Homo sapiens: one gene and its partners. The protein of the gene in region 5 interacts with the protein of the main gene of each other region in a pairwise test. Each region holds a gene or a part of one and is shown on either strand. Other genes may lie near its edges.

Evidence for each region.
Region 1: the proteins of ADARB1 (region 5) and DCN interact in a two-hybrid assay, tested with the Homo sapiens proteins (one large-scale study listed by BioGRID and IntAct).
Region 2: the proteins of ADARB1 (region 5) and LARP6 interact in a two-hybrid assay, tested with the Homo sapiens proteins (one large-scale study listed by BioGRID and IntAct).
Region 3: the proteins of ADARB1 (region 5) and NVL interact in a two-hybrid assay, tested with the Homo sapiens proteins (one large-scale study listed by BioGRID).
Region 4: the proteins of ADARB1 (region 5) and EDIL3 interact in a two-hybrid assay, tested with the Homo sapiens proteins (one large-scale study listed by BioGRID and IntAct).

Annotation. Positions count from the first base shown.
Region 1 is NC_000012.12:91,142,380-91,144,818, reverse strand, and holds part of DCN (decorin isoform a preproprotein), read left to right. Parts: 3' UTR 1-2,439. UniProt on the Homo sapiens protein: May affect the rate of fibrils formation.
Region 2 is NC_000015.10:70,833,658-70,837,179, forward strand, and holds part of LARP6 (la-related protein 6), read right to left. Parts: intron 2,849-3,522; coding exon 2,638-2,848; intron 1-2,637. UniProt on the Homo sapiens protein: Regulates the coordinated translation of type I collagen alpha-1 and alpha-2 mRNAs, CO1A1 and CO1A2. Stabilizes mRNAs through high-affinity binding of a stem-loop structure in their 5' UTR.
Region 3 is NC_000001.11:224,229,155-224,232,676, reverse strand, and holds part of NVL (nuclear valosin-containing protein-like), read left to right. Parts: exon of another isoform or gene 1-29; intron 30-1,380; coding exon 1,381-1,451; intron 1,452-3,522. UniProt on the Homo sapiens protein: Participates in the assembly of the telomerase holoenzyme and effecting of telomerase activity via its interaction with TERT. Involved in both early and late stages of the pre-rRNA processing pathways.
Region 4 is NC_000005.10:84,059,863-84,063,384, reverse strand, and holds part of EDIL3 (EGF-like repeat and discoidin I-like domain-containing protein 3 isoform 1 precursor), read left to right. Parts: intron 1-2,900; coding exon 2,901-3,085; intron 3,086-3,522. UniProt on the Homo sapiens protein: Promotes adhesion of endothelial cells through interaction with the alpha-v/beta-3 integrin receptor. Inhibits formation of vascular-like structures. May be involved in regulation of vascular morphogenesis of remodeling in embryonic development.
Region 5 is NC_000021.9:45,179,076-45,182,597, forward strand, and holds part of ADARB1 (double-stranded RNA-specific editase 1), read left to right. Parts: intron 1-1,254; coding exon 1,255-1,369; intron 1,370-3,509; coding exon 3,510-3,522. UniProt on the Homo sapiens protein: Catalyzes the hydrolytic deamination of adenosine to inosine in double-stranded RNA (dsRNA) referred to as A-to-I RNA editing.

The DNA of each region.
Region 1 (2,439 bases), on a different chromosome or scaffold from region 5:
ATGAGTGCAGTGGAACATGAAAAACTTGAGGAGATAACAGTTGAGGTGGGTTTCCATAGATGCATAATAGTTCAAGAGCAAGATTTGGTGGGGAGGCACTATTCAAGACAGGGACTAAGTTCAAAATCCAAGACGTATGCTGGGACACACCTCTGACAGGTTGGCATAAAGGAGGCTTAATCAAACTATTTTTCTTCTTCTGAAACAGAAGCAATAATTTTCATTTACATTTGACATATCCCGAGGTAATATTAACATTAGGGAAAGTTACTCTTTTCCATCTTTCCACATTCTTGCAGGACCATAAAATCTGAATTTTCCAGTATTTTTAATAAGAGGGAAGAAACCTCTCTTTTTCTTCTCTTTTTCATCTCCCAAGAGATCCTCCTCTCATGACTACAGTTGAATAGGTGGTTTCTATTGGAAGACATTCAGGAATTCAAGGTGCATGTCCATAAATGGACTTTTTTTGTTGTTGTTCAGAGCTGGACCTTGAATGATGCATCCTTCTCTCTGTTGTAACCATGAATAATGCACCCTTCATGCTATAGCCTTTAACGATTCACCCTTCTTATTGTAACCTTGAATGATTCACCCTTTATGGTGTAGCCTTGAGTGACGCACCCTTCATGTTGTAGCCTTCAATGATGCACACTCCATGTTATAGCCTTGAATGATATACCCTTTATGCTGCAGCCTTTCTCTTATGGGGAAAAGCCTGCAGATATCCTGCTGCTTAACTGACAAGTGTGGTGAGAAATAAGTAGAAATCTAAAGAGGGGAAGACCATTTTGGACACTTATCTGCAAGGCAGATCCAACACACTTTTCCAGTAGTCAAGCTACTTCTAATTTTGTTCAGTATCAAAATGAGAAACAGGCCTGATTCTCCAGCACTCTTGTCAACACAACTTCCCCCCATATTTATATATATACACACACATATATATCTTTATATATATACACACATATATATCTTTATATATATATATTTATATATATATCTTTTTGCATATATACATATATATGTATCTTTATTTCCTTTGAAATAAAGATAAATATAGCTGATTTCTTTGGCTTCGACACTTACTATTTGCATGACTAAGGGAAGCTAGTTAACCTTTCTGTGACTCATTTCCTTGTCCATAAAATGGGAATATTAATTGTACATGTCTTATGGATTGGTGTGTGAATTCAGTTAGCGAGTGTAGAATATAACTTATAGATCAAAGTAGAGTAAATGGAAAGGGCTCAACTATGGTGTTGCTACTGCCATTGTTATTACAGGCACACAGTTCGAGCTATAATCATTTCAAGGGAAATTCTTATGTGTCAGTTCTGGATCGAGGTCTGAGATTCTGCATTTCAAACAAACTTCCAGGAATGCTGCTGCTTCTTGGTCCACACTTGGAGAAATAAGTCAGCAGAGAGTCCTCTCGTTTCCTATTGTACCATGTCTGTCTTTTGTCTCCTGCTTATTGGCCTCTGTAAGGAACTCACAGCTGCTATAATAAAGTACCAAAAACTGGGTGGCTTAAAACAACAGAAACTTACTTTCTCACAATTCTGGAGGCTAAAAATTCAAAATCAAGGTGTCAGCAGGGTCAGATTCCTTCCAAAGCCTTTAGGAGAGGACCTTTCCTTGCTCCTCCTAGGTTTCTGGTTAAATCTAGGTGTTCTTTGCCTTATGGCAGCGTGACTCTAATTTATGCCTCCATCTTCACCCTCACATGGCCTTCTCTCTCATGTGTTTGTGTCTTTTCTCTTCTTCTTCTATGAACATGAGTTATATTGGATTAAGGCTCACCCTAATTTAGTATGAACCCATCTTAACTTGATTATATCTGCAAAGACTCTATTTCCAAATGAAGTCAGACTCACAGGTATTGGGGGTTTGATATTGAACATATCTTCTGGGAGGAGACACAACTTAATCATTAATATCCACTTTCTTTTTTCCTTATTAAATGTTTAATTTTTTTGTTTTCATTAAAACTGTTGTTCGATTATGGGTGCTTCACATAAAAGGTTGGAAACTTAAAAATTTGTCTCTGACCCCTCCTGGTTGGAAAGGCCTCTGTTGTACATTTATGCTAGCCTAGGCCATACCACTTTCTGTCTTCAGTACAGCCATCTTAGTTTATTCAAGTGACACAGATTTTCCAGAACACAGTATTCATGATCTTTTAAAGCATTTTTCTTCAAAGACTTTGATCTGGCAATAAATGTTACTATGTAATTCTCATGACATAAATTAGGCATAACTTGGATCTCCTCTTCTTCTGCTCATTCATTTGTCTGAATCATCACTATTATCTTTTTTATATTCCTTTACCGTTCTCCATAATGCTTTTCCAAGAAACTGGTTTATTCCACAATTTTATTGCAGAGGCAGCTGCAGGATATCATAATCTTATCTTTATACGAAGGAAGAATTGCC
Region 2 (3,522 bases), on a different chromosome or scaffold from region 5:
GTAATCATGTGCTATCATTACTTCCAATATTACATGCTATTATTTTGATAGGATTTGGAGATTTTAACATTCAAATGCTTCTCTAAAGCAGTATTTCTGCATTTCTGCATTTGATACAGAGAAGTTTCCAAAAGATCTTTCGCATTTCACTGCAATATCTCCTGAGAATGACATGGACTACTTCAACTTGAAATTAAATCCAACTTGGGCCTCACTAAGAATGGTGAAATAATCCCTCCCTCCTCCTTTGTTGGTGGAAATTGTATCAATGTTGCAGTATATGGAAGCTATATTTATACTGTAAAACAGTAATTTTCTAGAGGCCCACTTCCGGTGAAGGGAATGCCAGGGGGAATGAGTCATCCCAAACAAATAGTGAAGGTGGGTGGGGTGGGTAACCTGAGCCCGTAATGGCGAGATCCCCCTGAGTCCTCTGAGAACAGGCCAACAAGCTGCTCTGCAAAAGAACTGGGAACTCCAGGTGCCTCTGAGCATAAAACAGGAACTTCATGAAACTCAAGAAGGAAAGGCTCACTCACTGGGCAAGATGGGGAAACCTTGGCAGACCCATTACTATACACAGGCTCCTAGAGAGAGAGCACTGTCCACTGTAGCCTGTGGTCTCTGGGAGAAATGGCTCAGACTTAGGCTACTAGAAGAACACGGGTCCAAGGGCACAGAGAAGCAGGCCCAGGCAAAGGGTCGGATTTCAGGTGGACAGAGTCCATGAGGAATCCAGAAAGGGTGAAGCTGATGACTGCGGGTGCGTGTGAGGCTGTGGGAAAGCCAGGCAGTGGCTCACTGTGGGGTGAAACATGGTGAAGCCTTCTCCGAAAACAGCTAGGGAGGGAGCACTTGGGAGATAAAAAGAGACAATTTCCTAAGCCTGAAGCTTGAGCTAGGAGCACCTGGGAAAGCACAGCACTGCCTTACTCAGAGGGCTACAGAAGTCTGTGGGGGACCACATCTCACTGCAAGAGAAGCAGGCTCTGGCTAGGACTGAATATCCCTCCTGAGCCAGAAGCAAGGTCCACTGGGAAATCTCGGTTACAGTCTGAGCATCCTAAGCCTGGGTCCATGACCATTCATAAGGAAGGTCCAGGTAGCACCTGAGAAAAGGGACCAGGGAGCGTTCATCCTTGTGCAATTGCTAGAAGAACTCTAAGGTTTCCCTGTGCTTTTTACCTTTGTCATGTATGTTCCCCTTTTGTGATTAATAGGAAATCCTTCAGAATGAAAAGGATCTTTGCTCTGATTTTGGAGGTGTTAGGGAGTCTGTCTGTACTCTGCAGCCAGGTTTCAACAGAGAAGAACATTCCTAAATAGGACCATAAGTGGCAGCTTAAAGAGGAAAGCAAAACAGGCTGACTCTTGGGGTCCCTGGGGAGGAATAAAGAGACGTGCTGGATGATTCCACTGGCTGCTTCATTTTGGGATCCCCCACAAACACTTTTCATATGAAGGTTTGCTCACTGTTCTCTGACCATTAAAATATCCCTTCCATTCCCCTGTACCTAGAAAACTCCTACTCATCCTCCAAAATCCTATTTCAATGTCACCTTCTCTGGGAAGACTTCTCAGTTCTCCAGGCAGGGTTAGTTGCTCTGATCAACTAGTTCCCAATAATACTGTGTTCTCTCTTTTGTCCTACTATATGTGGTCACATTGTAATCTTTCAGATCTCTCTCCTTTATTGGACTGTGAGCTTGTCAAGGACAGGGGGAGTACGATCTTCACTCTGTACATCCTGCGCCTAGCACAGCACTCAGCAGAGACAATGAGCATATTTGATGAATGAATAAAGGAAAAAGAGCGACAGGGCCAGGCAGAGTACACCAGTGGGTGAGGCAGGGAAGAGGTCCAAGGAGAAAAGCTCTCCTCCAGTGCACTCTGACAAAGTACACAGACAACTTGGCCGGGACCCACTTGTTACGCATCCCGTTATGCAACAGGCCGCGTAGTGCTTTTCCATTCTAGTAAATGCACTTCCCCTAAGGGAGACACAGAGTTCTTACTCCAACTAGTCTGTCAACTCTCTGAGAAGTAGACAGTACACAGCCCAAACACTGGATCTATATATGGCAGGGACAAGCAGTCTGCTGCCCAGATGGCAGCAATAATTACAAATCTCATCTCCCTATTGTATAGATAAGGATGATGGCGTCACACAGGCAGAGCATGTGTGTCTTAGAGAAGGCTCATTTCTGAGAGTTCTGGGTGCTCATTCTCTCCCTTTGCTTATTCAACTTGACAAATGAAAAGCTTGAATTTCATATAATTTTAGGCCTGGCAGGTATCTCTCAAGGCCTTCGAGTCCGTCTGTCCTGGTATCACATCCTCCTGGCCACCCACTTGCCTGGCAAAAGTGCCTGAACTTTACTAAGAACAAGTAACATTGTTTCATAACTGCTGCCAGCTGAGATTTGTCCCAATGCCCAGGACCCTTTTAATAGTGTGGGAGTATATTCCTAACAATACTAAATCCCTTCTCCTAGCCATTTTTCTCTTTTTCAGGCACAGACTTAATTTTAAAAATTGTTCGTCATCAGGTTTCAAGGGAGTTAAAAAAAATGTTTAAAACCACAACCCAAAACAAACTTGAAATCCTTGAAGCAGCTTCTGAGAACCAAGCCTCACCTTTTTGAAGGATGTGAGTAGCTTAACGCTCACATATCCCAGCTTGTTCCTCCTCACGTGTTTTAGCAAAAAGGCGTCCTTCTCCAGGTTTTCATCAGAAAAGTAGAATTCGATCTGATCCACCAGTTTCTTGATCAACTCCTCATCCGGGGGCTTCCACTCCTGCTCCAGGTCCTCACGCTCGTTCTCACCTCCACTTGCAGTGGTGCCACTGAGACCAGAAGGAGACACCGGGTGTTAGGGTCAACGTTGAACTGTGTCCCCCAAAAATTCATATGCTGAAGTCCTGACCCCCAATACCTTGGAGTATGATGTTATTTGGAAATGGGGGTCACTGCAGATGCAATTAATTAAGATGAGGTCTTACTGGAGTAGGGTGGACCCCCTAATCCAACACAACTAGGGTCCTTACCAAAGGGGTAAATTTGAACACAGACATGCACACAGAGAGAACATCATGTGAAGGCGAAGGGAGAGACTGGGGTGATGTAGCAAAACTCAAGGAATGCCAAAGACTGCCACCAGAAGCGAGGAAAGATGCTTAGAATGGATCCATTTCTAGTACTTTCAGAGGGCGCATGGCCCTATTCACACCTTGATTTCGGGCTTCAGGCCTCCAGAACCATAAAACAATATATTTCTGTTGTTCTAAACCATCCAGCTCATGGTATTTTGTTACAGCAGCCCTAGGAATTGACACTGGGTCACATGGCCACAGAAGGAGAGGTTTGCCCCCAAACAGCTAAGAAGTCAATCTTTCATTTTTAACAAGCATGGAGGATCATAAAAATAATAACTGGCCAGGCATCGTGGCTCCCATCTGTAATACCAGCACTTTGGGAGGCTGAGGTAGGTGGCCTGAGCCCAGGAATTTGAGACCAGCCT
Region 3 (3,522 bases), on a different chromosome or scaffold from region 5:
GGGGGAAAAAAATTGTCTGCTGGGTGTGGTGACTCACATCTGTAATCCCAGCACTTTGGGAAGCTGCGGCAGGAGGATTGCTTGAGCCCAGGAGTTTGAGAGCAGCCTGCGCAACAAACCAAGATGCCATCTCTATAAAAAATTTAAAAATTAGACTGGCATGGTGGTGCATGCCTATAGTCCTAACTACTTGGGAGGGTGAGGCCCAGGAGTTCGAGGCTGCAATGAGCTATGATTGCACCACTGCACTCCAGCCTGAGTGACAGAGCAAAACCCTGTCTCTATTTTTATTTTGTTATTTTTATTTTTATTTATTTATTTTTTTTGAGACAGAGTCTCGCTCTCACTCAGGCTGGAGTGCAGTGGCGCGATCTTGGCTCACTGCAAGCTCCGCCTCTCGGGTTCATGCCATTCTCCTGCCTCAGCCTCCCAAGTAGCTAGGATTACAGGCGCCGGCCACCACACCTGACTAATTTTTTTTTTTGTATTTTTAGTAGAGACGGGGTTTCACCATGTTAGCCAGGATGGTCTCGATCTCCTGACTTCGTGATCCGCCTGCCTCGGCCTCCCAAAGTGCTGGGATTACAGGTGTGAGCCACTGCGCCCGGCCTCCCTGTCTGTATTTTTATTTATTTATTTATTTATTTTCTAAACTTGAGTCTTGCTCTGTCGCCCAGGCTGGAGTGCAGTGCCGCGATCTCGGCTCACTGCAACCTCCACCTCCTGGTTCAAGCAATTCTCCTGCCTCAGCTTCCCGAGTAGCTGGGACTACAGGCGTGTGCCACCACACCCACTTAATTTTTTTTGTATTTTTAGTAGAGACGGGATTTCACCATATTGGTCAGGCTGGTCTCGAACTCCTGATCTCATGATCCGCCCACCTCGGCCTCCCAAAGTGCTGGGATTACAAGCCTGAGCCACCGCGCCCGACCTAAAGCTCCCTTCTAAACCAGTGCTGAGATATATTATATATAAAATATTCTATGATATTATGGCTCCATAAGATCTCATTGTGTGTTGCATACTCTTAAATATTAATACTATGGAATCCTACTTTCTATTCCAGTTACATTTATTTGAATTATCTGAATAATTCTGGCTCTTGTTCATAGGCATCACCATTAAGTTAAACAATGCAAAGAGGCCTACAAAAAGTTACCAACTTATGAGTGGCAGATCTCTTTGGGTGGTTTTGGATTAAAATCTGATGAGCAGAATATATCTGGCTAGAATACTGTTCTGAAAAAGAACAGAGCCCATCTCATCACTGATCTCTTTAGTGGACCCCTTGAAAGTTTTGAAGTCTTTCAAAGGAAGTTAAGTTCTAAGTCAGTTACCATACGATACTGAGATGTGTATATTTGTGCATTTACTCCATAGGTGAACTCAAGGTTAGTCATAAGCATTTTGAAGAAGCTTTCAAGAAAGTAAGATCATCTATATCAAAAAAGGTAAGCAATGCCATTAAATGCATAGAGAAAGGAAACTAGAATTTTAGACCAGTAGATATGACCTCATGAATTAAACTCTTTTTTTTTTTTTTTGAGACGGAGTCTTGCTCTGTCGTCCATGCTGGAGTGCAGTGGTGCGATCTCTGCTCACTGCAAGCTCTGCCTCCCGGGTTCACACCATTCTCCTGCCTCAGCCTCCCAAGTAGCTGGGACTACAGGTGCCCGCCACCATCCCCGGCTAATTTTTTGCATTTTTAGTAGAGACGGGGTTTCACCATGTTAGCCAGGATGGTCTCGATCTCCTGACCTCGTGATCCGCCCGTCTCTGCCTCCCAAAGTGCTGGGATTACAGGCGTGAGCCACCGCGCCCGGCTGAATTAAACTCTTTTACAGATTGTTTTGTATACTACTTCTACTTCCTAAAAAGAAATTACATGGTTCATTTTGATCTGAAAACAAGCAAAATAATTGCCTTTGTGAGAATGTTCTTGAGAGATTTTAATTTTATATGTTTCTTAGGGACTAGAACACAGTTTTCCTAACTAGATTCTCTAACAACTTTATTCAGAAAGAGAATGACCTCTTCTGCCTCCACAATCTCAGATTTTTTTTTTATTTTTTTGAGACAGAGTCTCGCTCTGTCACCCAGTCTGGAGTGTAGTGGCATGATCTTGGCTCACTGCAACCTCTGCCTCCTGGGTTCAAGCGATTCTTCTGTCTCAGCCTCCTGAGTAGCTGGGACTATAGGTGCGCACCACCATGCCTGGCTAATTTTTTGTATTTTTAGTAGAGACAGGGTTTCACCATATTGGTGAGGCTGGTCTCAAACTCTTGACCTCGTGATCCACCCGCCTTGGCCTCCCAAAGTGCTGGGATTACAGGCGTGAGCCACTGCGCCCAGCCCACAATCTCAGAATTTTAATCATCTGATTCAAGTATTATTTGACCTACTCTACGCTTTTTGATAAATGGCTTTGTATTTCTTGGAGCTAGACTGTACCCAAACTAAGCCATAGGGACTTACCCATACATTTCAGGGAAATAAAAACATCTTCACCATAGGTGGGAGAAGGGTTAAAAAAAAATCACTCTGGAGCTGGGCACAGGGGCTTATGCCTGTTATCTCAGCTACTCAGGAGGCAGAGGTGGGAGAATGGCTTGAGCCCAGGAGTTCAAGATCAGCCTGGGCAACATGGTGAGACCCTGTCTCTACAAAAAAATTAAAACTTAGCCAGGCATGGTGTCATGCACCTGTAGTCCCAGCTACTTAGGAGACCGAGGCAGAAGGATTACTTGAGCCCAGGAGGTTGAGGCTACACTGAGCCATGATCACACCATTGTACTCCAGCCTCGGTTACAGAACGAAACCTTGTCTCAAAAACAAACAAATAAACACAGAAGAAAAAACACACTTCAAGTATTTCTTTGGGATGAATACACAGGAGTGGAATTGCCACCCAACATTTAAAATGTTAATTTGCCAGACGCGGTGGCTCACTTCTGTAATCCCAGCACTTTGGGAGGCTGAGGCGGGCAGATCACGAAGTCAGGAGTTCAAGACCAGCCTGGCCAATATAGTGAAATCTCATCTCTACTAAAAATACAAAAATTAGCTGGGCGCGCACCTGTAGTCCCAGCTACTGCGCACCTGTAGTCCCAGCTACTCAGGAGGCTGAAGCAGAAGAATCGCTTGAACCTGGGAGGCAGAGGTTGCAGTGAGCCAAGATTGCACCACTGCACTCCAGCCTGGGCGACAGATTGAGACTCCGTCTCAAAAAAAAAAATTTTTTTTTAATTTGACCACAGTGAGATTCTACTACACACCTACCACAATGACTAAAATTTAAAATATTGGCAACACTAAATGGTGGCAAGGATATGAAACAGCTGGAACTCTTTTTATTTATTTATTTATTTATTTATTTTTTTGAGACAGAGTTTCACTCTTGTTGCCCAGGCTGGAATGCAATGGCACAATCGCAGCTCACCACAACCTCTGCCTCCTGAGTTCAAGCTATTCTCCTGCTTCAGCCTCCCGAGTAGCTGGGATTACAGGCATGTGCCACCACAC
Region 4 (3,522 bases), on a different chromosome or scaffold from region 5:
TACTCCAGTTATTAAGATCCAGTAAATCTTAGCAGACTTATTGCTATACAGTGTTTGTATTGCATCTCACTATATCACCACAGACCAGTGTCATCCCTAAGCCATTTATCATAAAGCAATCAAGAGGAAGCCACAATATGATGAGATCTGCTGCAAGCCACATGGTTTTTAGTTGCTTAACATCACCTTCCACAATTTTTCAGTCTTTTGATTCATGAGAGTCAGTCTTTCACACATGGCACGGTTACACCCCTAAGATGTGAATATATTTTACTCCCAAGTTTGACAAGACATTGCACCTGACACTTTACAGGTTTTATTTTCTCAAAAAGAAGCAGTGCTGCATCTCCCAGCACAGCAAATTGATTTTGAACTTGCATGCAGAGAGTAATATCTCTCAATGGATGCTTTAAAAAACTAGAGCACTTCATTATAGAAATACCCATTTCATTGTTAATACTTCATTTTGTTCAAGTGCTGGCCACACTGGTAAGAGAGTTAATTAATTTATATGCTTGAAATCATATGGATAAGAAGTAAAATTTGTGGCATGAGGCACATTGGCAGAGAGGTTAGCTGTAACACCTGGAAATAAACACTAATGTAATGTACCAAACTACTCCCCACAATCCAGTGGAACACTGTAAAGCCTTATTGTATTCAGTAAATTGCTATTAAAATCTTTCACCCTGCCTAGAAGATGAGCAGGTAATCTCTTCTCAAACACTTTTGAAGATCATCTCCTAAATACACTGAAAGAAGTATGACTTAAGATATTTGGAATAAAATAGATTATGACCCTAATTAGAGGAGGAATACTCATTCATTCATTCTATGAACCAATAATTTGGCAATTCTGAGATAAATACTAGACAACAGAATGGATATAAAGTGAATTTTTTGGCTAAGCAGAAGTGGTCAAAGTAAAGCCATTCCTTTTCTATCCAGTACTTCAATACTATGTTATATCACAAAAGGAGGGAAACAACTATCTTTCCTCTTCCCTTGTATCTCCTGCAAACTGAGCAAAGTTTTCAAAGACTTGGGGGGTGGGATGCAGGTAGAGGCAAAGATGGGGATAAAAGAACAAGTCAGAATTTTTCAATGTAGACAATGCATGCCACTATGAAACTAACTTCCTGAAGATAAACAGCTTGCCATTAAGCCTGTTAGAATTTTCTAGACTCTTAGAGAATTGTTATGACTTTTTTTTCACCCAGAATATACAGGTAGGCATTACAGCTATCTTTAATATGAGGCTTCAGATACTTATCTCCTATACCAAAATGTACTCGTGTTAAGACACACAGCCCTCCATGTCATGTTTTCCATGTTTTCATAGGATATGCATTTCCTAGATGGTGGAGGTGAAGGGAAATATGGGGAGCCTCAAGAAGGTAGAAGTAATCTAGATAGACCAGGACAGAAGGCAATTAGTTATAGCTAAGAGTTATTGATCAATGAAGAGTTCTAAAGCACCTCTTTTATAGTTTAGACTCCAAAAAAGGTCTAGTTTTAGAAACTGTACCCAATAATTAAATATTATTGAGTACTTGTTGATATGCTGATATTTGGGGACTTACCATTGCCATCTGTTGGGATGAGTTTTACAGAAATCATACAAATAGTTAACATTGACTGAATGCTGTGTGCCAGCACTGTTTCTAAGTACTTTATGTTTATTAAGTAATTTCTTAGAATACTTCCTTGAGGTAGTTTCTATTATTATCACCATCTTACAGATGAGAAAATTTAGGTAGAAAGTTGTTAAATAACAGGGCAAGGCTACACAGCTGGGAAATGGGAGACAGTAGAGTGTGAGGAGAAAGTATTGGGTTGGAGGAGTGTCCTCTTGTCATCTTTGTTTCTTTGATGATCAAACTTACCTTGTGAGTTACTTGACCAAAATTTAACAGTTTCACATAAAGAAGACTCAGCCCCGGGCTCATATGATGATAGAATCATGCTTTCTATTACAAAAATTGTAAAGAGCATTTTGTCACAGTTGCAATCCAAGACTGGGAAATTTTGTGTCTATGTATACACACACAAACATATGTGCATGCATATAATTTTTCAAGGACAAGCAAGCCAAAATTTTTACCGTATTAAACTCAAAAATACATGTGGTAGATTTGAGAATCTTACAAAAATATCTAAACTTTATAGGTTATTGAATATGATTGAAATAAAATAATGTATTAAAAGGTTTGTTCAGTGGTGGTTATTGCTAGAATTATCTTATTATCTTCTGTTATCTATTAGTTTAAATTATGCTTGCACAATGCCTGGCACATGGCATACCCTCAGTAAATACTAGATTCCTCTCTTACAGAAGAAGCCATGTTGGTGCTATAAGAATCAGTGATGAAGATTAACATATTTCTTGAAAAACAAAATGCTGTCCGGTTTAGAATACAGCAGTAGAGCAGCTTGTGAAAATGACTTTGTACTGAGGGAATTTTCATTTGCAGTAATTTGAAAACAAATAAAAGAAAAACAATACTTTGTGAGAAAATGTCCCATTTTTAAAGACACAATGAAACTGTTGAAAACTGGGGAGCAGTCAGGAGGCCTCCAGTAATGAGACAGGAGAGAGCATTTCAGCATTGTTTTCATTTTGCAGAATCATCTATCACAGAAAAGTAGTTTAAATTGTCTGTCTTGTTTTCAATTTTTCCAAAATATATTCAGACAAAATAGCTTGAATTGACTATCTTGTTTTTCGATTTTGTTTCAGATTTATTTCTGATTATAGCTTTTTTTTGGATTTAGATGTTTTCTCTTTGGAGGAATGAATAGCATTATGTTTAATCTTCTCTTGCCTATCCAAAATGAATGCAGAAAAGTTCCAGGTGATCAATTATTTTTCTCATGGAGCCCTTCTCATTTTCTTTCAGGTTGTTCTGAGCCTCTGGGTATGAAATCAGGACATATACAAGACTATCAGATCACTGCCTCCAGCATCTTCAGAACGCTCAACATGGACATGTTCACTTGGGAACCAAGGAAAGCTCGGCTGGACAAGCAAGGCAAAGTGAATGCCTGGACCTCTGGCCACAATGACCAGTCACAATGGTTACAGGTAAAGTTTTCCAAAACTGTTTCACTACCCACTGTTCCTCTTTCTTAGAAGATTTCCTGTTGATTAGGTGAGTGTCAGAGTCGTTACCTTCACGCTAATTTAAATGTGCCTTCATCTTCGGTTTAACTAAATTGGTAAAACACAAATTCCTTATGAAACCATGTCTGTGGGCTATTTTTACGCTGGTGTTGGTTTATAGATGCTAGTGTAAGCTTGATGCAGGAGACTGTACCAGATCACACTATGTGTATGTCAATTGATTGATTAGGAGAGCATTTGCATCTTAACTCTCATCCATTCTAATACTTTGTATTAATATTGGCTTTGAAAGCATGACAGCAAGAATCCAAAGGGCATTGAAATCATGCCACTGACCTGCAAACTGTTCACGTAGAATCATGACTCATGACATATTAGCTCCTTACCTGTGGTTGCTA
Region 5 (3,522 bases):
CTTTCCCTCTGGCACCCTGGCCAATTGGAATGCGTCGCCCCTTCCCTCTGGCACCCTGGCCACGTCCTGTGTTTCTGTCACAGCCTCAGTTCCTCGCGTCCGCTCACCCCTGCATTGCAGATGCCGCTGCCTGCGGGTGCATGGATCCCTGCCACCAAAGCCTCTGTCCATTCTCCACATGACTTGTCTTGAACACTGTCCTCTGGGGCTCACTGATACTTGCTGGTGCAATGATAAGAGAAAAACATCCTGACAACTATCTTTTCTACTCATTTCAGAAATATTTTATTAAGGACCAACCTGGGGATGCTGGGTTTTCCTAGTAGTCATTTGATTTTCCAGACAAGTGTGAAATTGGTGGGACATGAGTTGAAACTGGCTCTTAACACCCACCTCCCAGCAGACATCATTTCCCAAAATGCCATGGGCTCATTATATCCAAGATAAATCATAAGCCATAAGACCATGTCCAAAATCCAACAAATACATCTGTTCTCAGAAGCACTTTAATACAGATGTCTGTCTGACCTGAGCATATACCTGTGCAGGTGTTCCGAACGTCTAAGCGCTTTCCCTCCCCGTGCTGTTCTCTGGTACATGATTCTATCGTACCGTCTGGGCGAGTGAGCGGAGTCAGAGTGCATTTGTGTGGAGAGGCTGGAATGACTGAGAAGCCTCTCGGTGGCGCCTTTGAGGGAGGTGCTGTGCACAGCTTGTGGCTTCCTTCACTGGATCGCATCTCCAAGCTGCCCCTTTCTCTTGCCTTTGATTTTGCACATCATCCTGGGCTGTGCTCCCAGCTGTGTGTGGCCCTGGAGCTGACTGAGCCACACCGTGTGTGCATGTGAGAGAGGGCAAGGGGGGTGGGAGGGCCATACTAGGTGGGCGTAGGCGTGGGCAGGTGGCCCTGAGCAGGCAGCTTTGCCTGTTTGCCTCGGTTTCCTCCTGAGGGCCGGGCTGGCCTGCGGTGAGGATTGGAGGGATGCTCATGTGTGGTGCCCACACTCCACACTGGCCCCACGCGGGTGGCGAAGGACTCAGCCAGAGCCTGGCAGGATCCTGGGGTGTCTATTTCCAAGGAATGTTCTGGAAGAAACATACACACATACTTGTTTGCCAGATTTACCTGTGTGGTCTTCCAGATGAGAAGCAGCCTGTGTCACTCCATAAGGGAGAGTGCGTGCAGCATTGAGAGAGTGAGCCCTGCTCCCAGCTGCATCTGGCCCCTAACCTGCATCTGTGCTTCCCACACAGGTTTTAGCTGACGCTGTCTCACGCCTGGTCCTGGGTAAGTTTGGTGACCTGACCGACAACTTCTCCTCCCCTCACGCTCGCAGAAAAGTGCTGGCTGGAGTCGTCATGACAACAGGTAACCATCTTGGTGTTGTATGTAACCCTGCCTGTTTTCATGTCTGACAAATGTGAAATGTTCTCAATCGACAAAAACCACTGTGCCACACCGACGGGAGATGGTTACTTCTTTTCTTCTTCAAAATGTCTGCCATATGCAAGTTTACGAACTGCACTTACAAGCTTTTTTCCCAAAATGTTCATCTTTTTAACCTAAGTTTGTTTTATCTGGAGAAAGCACACTATATTAATATTTGATTCCTGTCATCTTCATCCTGTGAATGGCCTCAATCTGCTCTGGAAGATGGCAAGGGGCTTACTAATTCTTCCTTTATTTGAAAGTAGAGCCTATCTATTGTATCAGTTAATGTTAACGATGCCAGATAAGTTTCAGTGTGACTTCCTTTGAGGAGGGAGAGAGCTCTAGCAAGAGTAGAAAATCCGTGGGGAAAAAAAGCACAATTTAGAACGATAGAAGAAACCCTATTAAATTAGTCTAGAAGTTCCCAGTAGCAAAAGGAACCCCCGAGTCCTCTCCCCACATCCCGCGAGTGAGAACACGCAGCAGCATCTCTGTGGGTAGCTCCTGGGAAGGGAAGCCACATCCTTGGCCAGTGTCTGGCACCCCAGGGTGGAGCAAGACTCAGGGAGAGGACCCCTGTCATGTGGGGCCGTCTCTGTACCCAGCATCTGCTCAGCCCAGCCTGGACAGCCAGATGCAGGAAGCAGACCCTAGAGGTCAGGGAGGAAGCTGGGGACAGTTTCTCTGTCTACATCCACCAGCCCAGGAGAAACCCCCAGTTCTCGGTATGTGACTTTCTTGTTCTTTCCCCCTGAGGGGTCACCTCTATCAGACTCTGCAGCCCTCTTCACTGACCCACCTCTTGCTGCCCTAGGAAACCTGGCTGCTCTGCTCATGACCATTGTTTCCTTGCCGTGCCGTGTCCAGGGAGGAGGAAGCACCCGAACAGCAGCTTCTATTCTAATGTTTTGTACCTGTATCTTCTCCCCCTTTTACCTCTCTCCTTACTGCTATCTTTTACATTAATCAAAGGTGAACACCACAACGACTGAATAGAATAGTTCCCTAGGTAAGACTCCCTGCCTCTTCCAGCAGCATGGGTGAGTGAGCTGGTCATGTTCTTTCATCGTTTTGTTGTTGTTGTTGTTTTGTTTTTGTTGTTGTTGTTTTTAACGACCTTAGAAGAGGCCGATCACCTTCTGGGAACACCTTACATCTTAGTGTGTATTTCACCTGAGACCACTTGCTCAGAGCCATAGTTTACATCTGAAGCCAGGACGCTGGAGCACTTGGCACTCCAGACAGCTGGTTCAGGGGGCTCCCGCTGGTTGAGTGGACTTGGGCAGGTTACAAGGCCTCTGTGCCTCAGTTCCCTCATCTATACAGTGGAGACATTAGTAGCATGAGCCTCAGAGGACATCGTGGGAATGCAGTGAGGACAATTTACCTAACAGACCTGGTGCTTACCTGCCACATGGTGTGCACACCATTGGTTCAGCTGCAGTGGATGCGAGTTTCCCGGCAGGTGACTTCCAGGGTCCTGGCATCACACCTCTGGTCAGTGGTTTATCTCACAAAGTTGAGACGGAGTGATCTGTCTGTGGGAGTTCACCACTGCTTGTGATTTCACTCCGAGTGTGGTTAATGGTGACAGTTTACTAATGAAAACATCACAAGTTAATTCTGTTTTCCTTCTTATTCCTCTGGGTGCCGTTAACCCCTCCTTCCTAATCTCTTCAGTACTTTGATATTTGATGTCAAGATTAATTACCAGACCAGTTAGTCCACCTTTCCATAGTGTTGCCCAGCTGTGTTCTAGTTGTGGGCATTCAAGAAAAGATGCTATTGCATACCAGAGGAAATGACTTCCTTGAGTTTAGTGTCTGGACACTAAGCAATGACGATGGTTGGCTTTCCAGAAATGTCACAAAGTGAGTCCTCAATAGGAGGTTGTTTGCGTGTATACATTTGCCCACTTAAAAAATAGGTGGTAAGAATATGCATGAAGATGAGCTTGAAAAGTCTGTTGGCCCCTGAAAAGTTAAGTCACTGAGAATAAGAGTCAGACTTCAGGAGCACAGTTAGGCAAACATTACTGTGAATTACAGAAAATAGTGTCTCTTTTTTTTTTTTTCAGGCACAGATGTTAA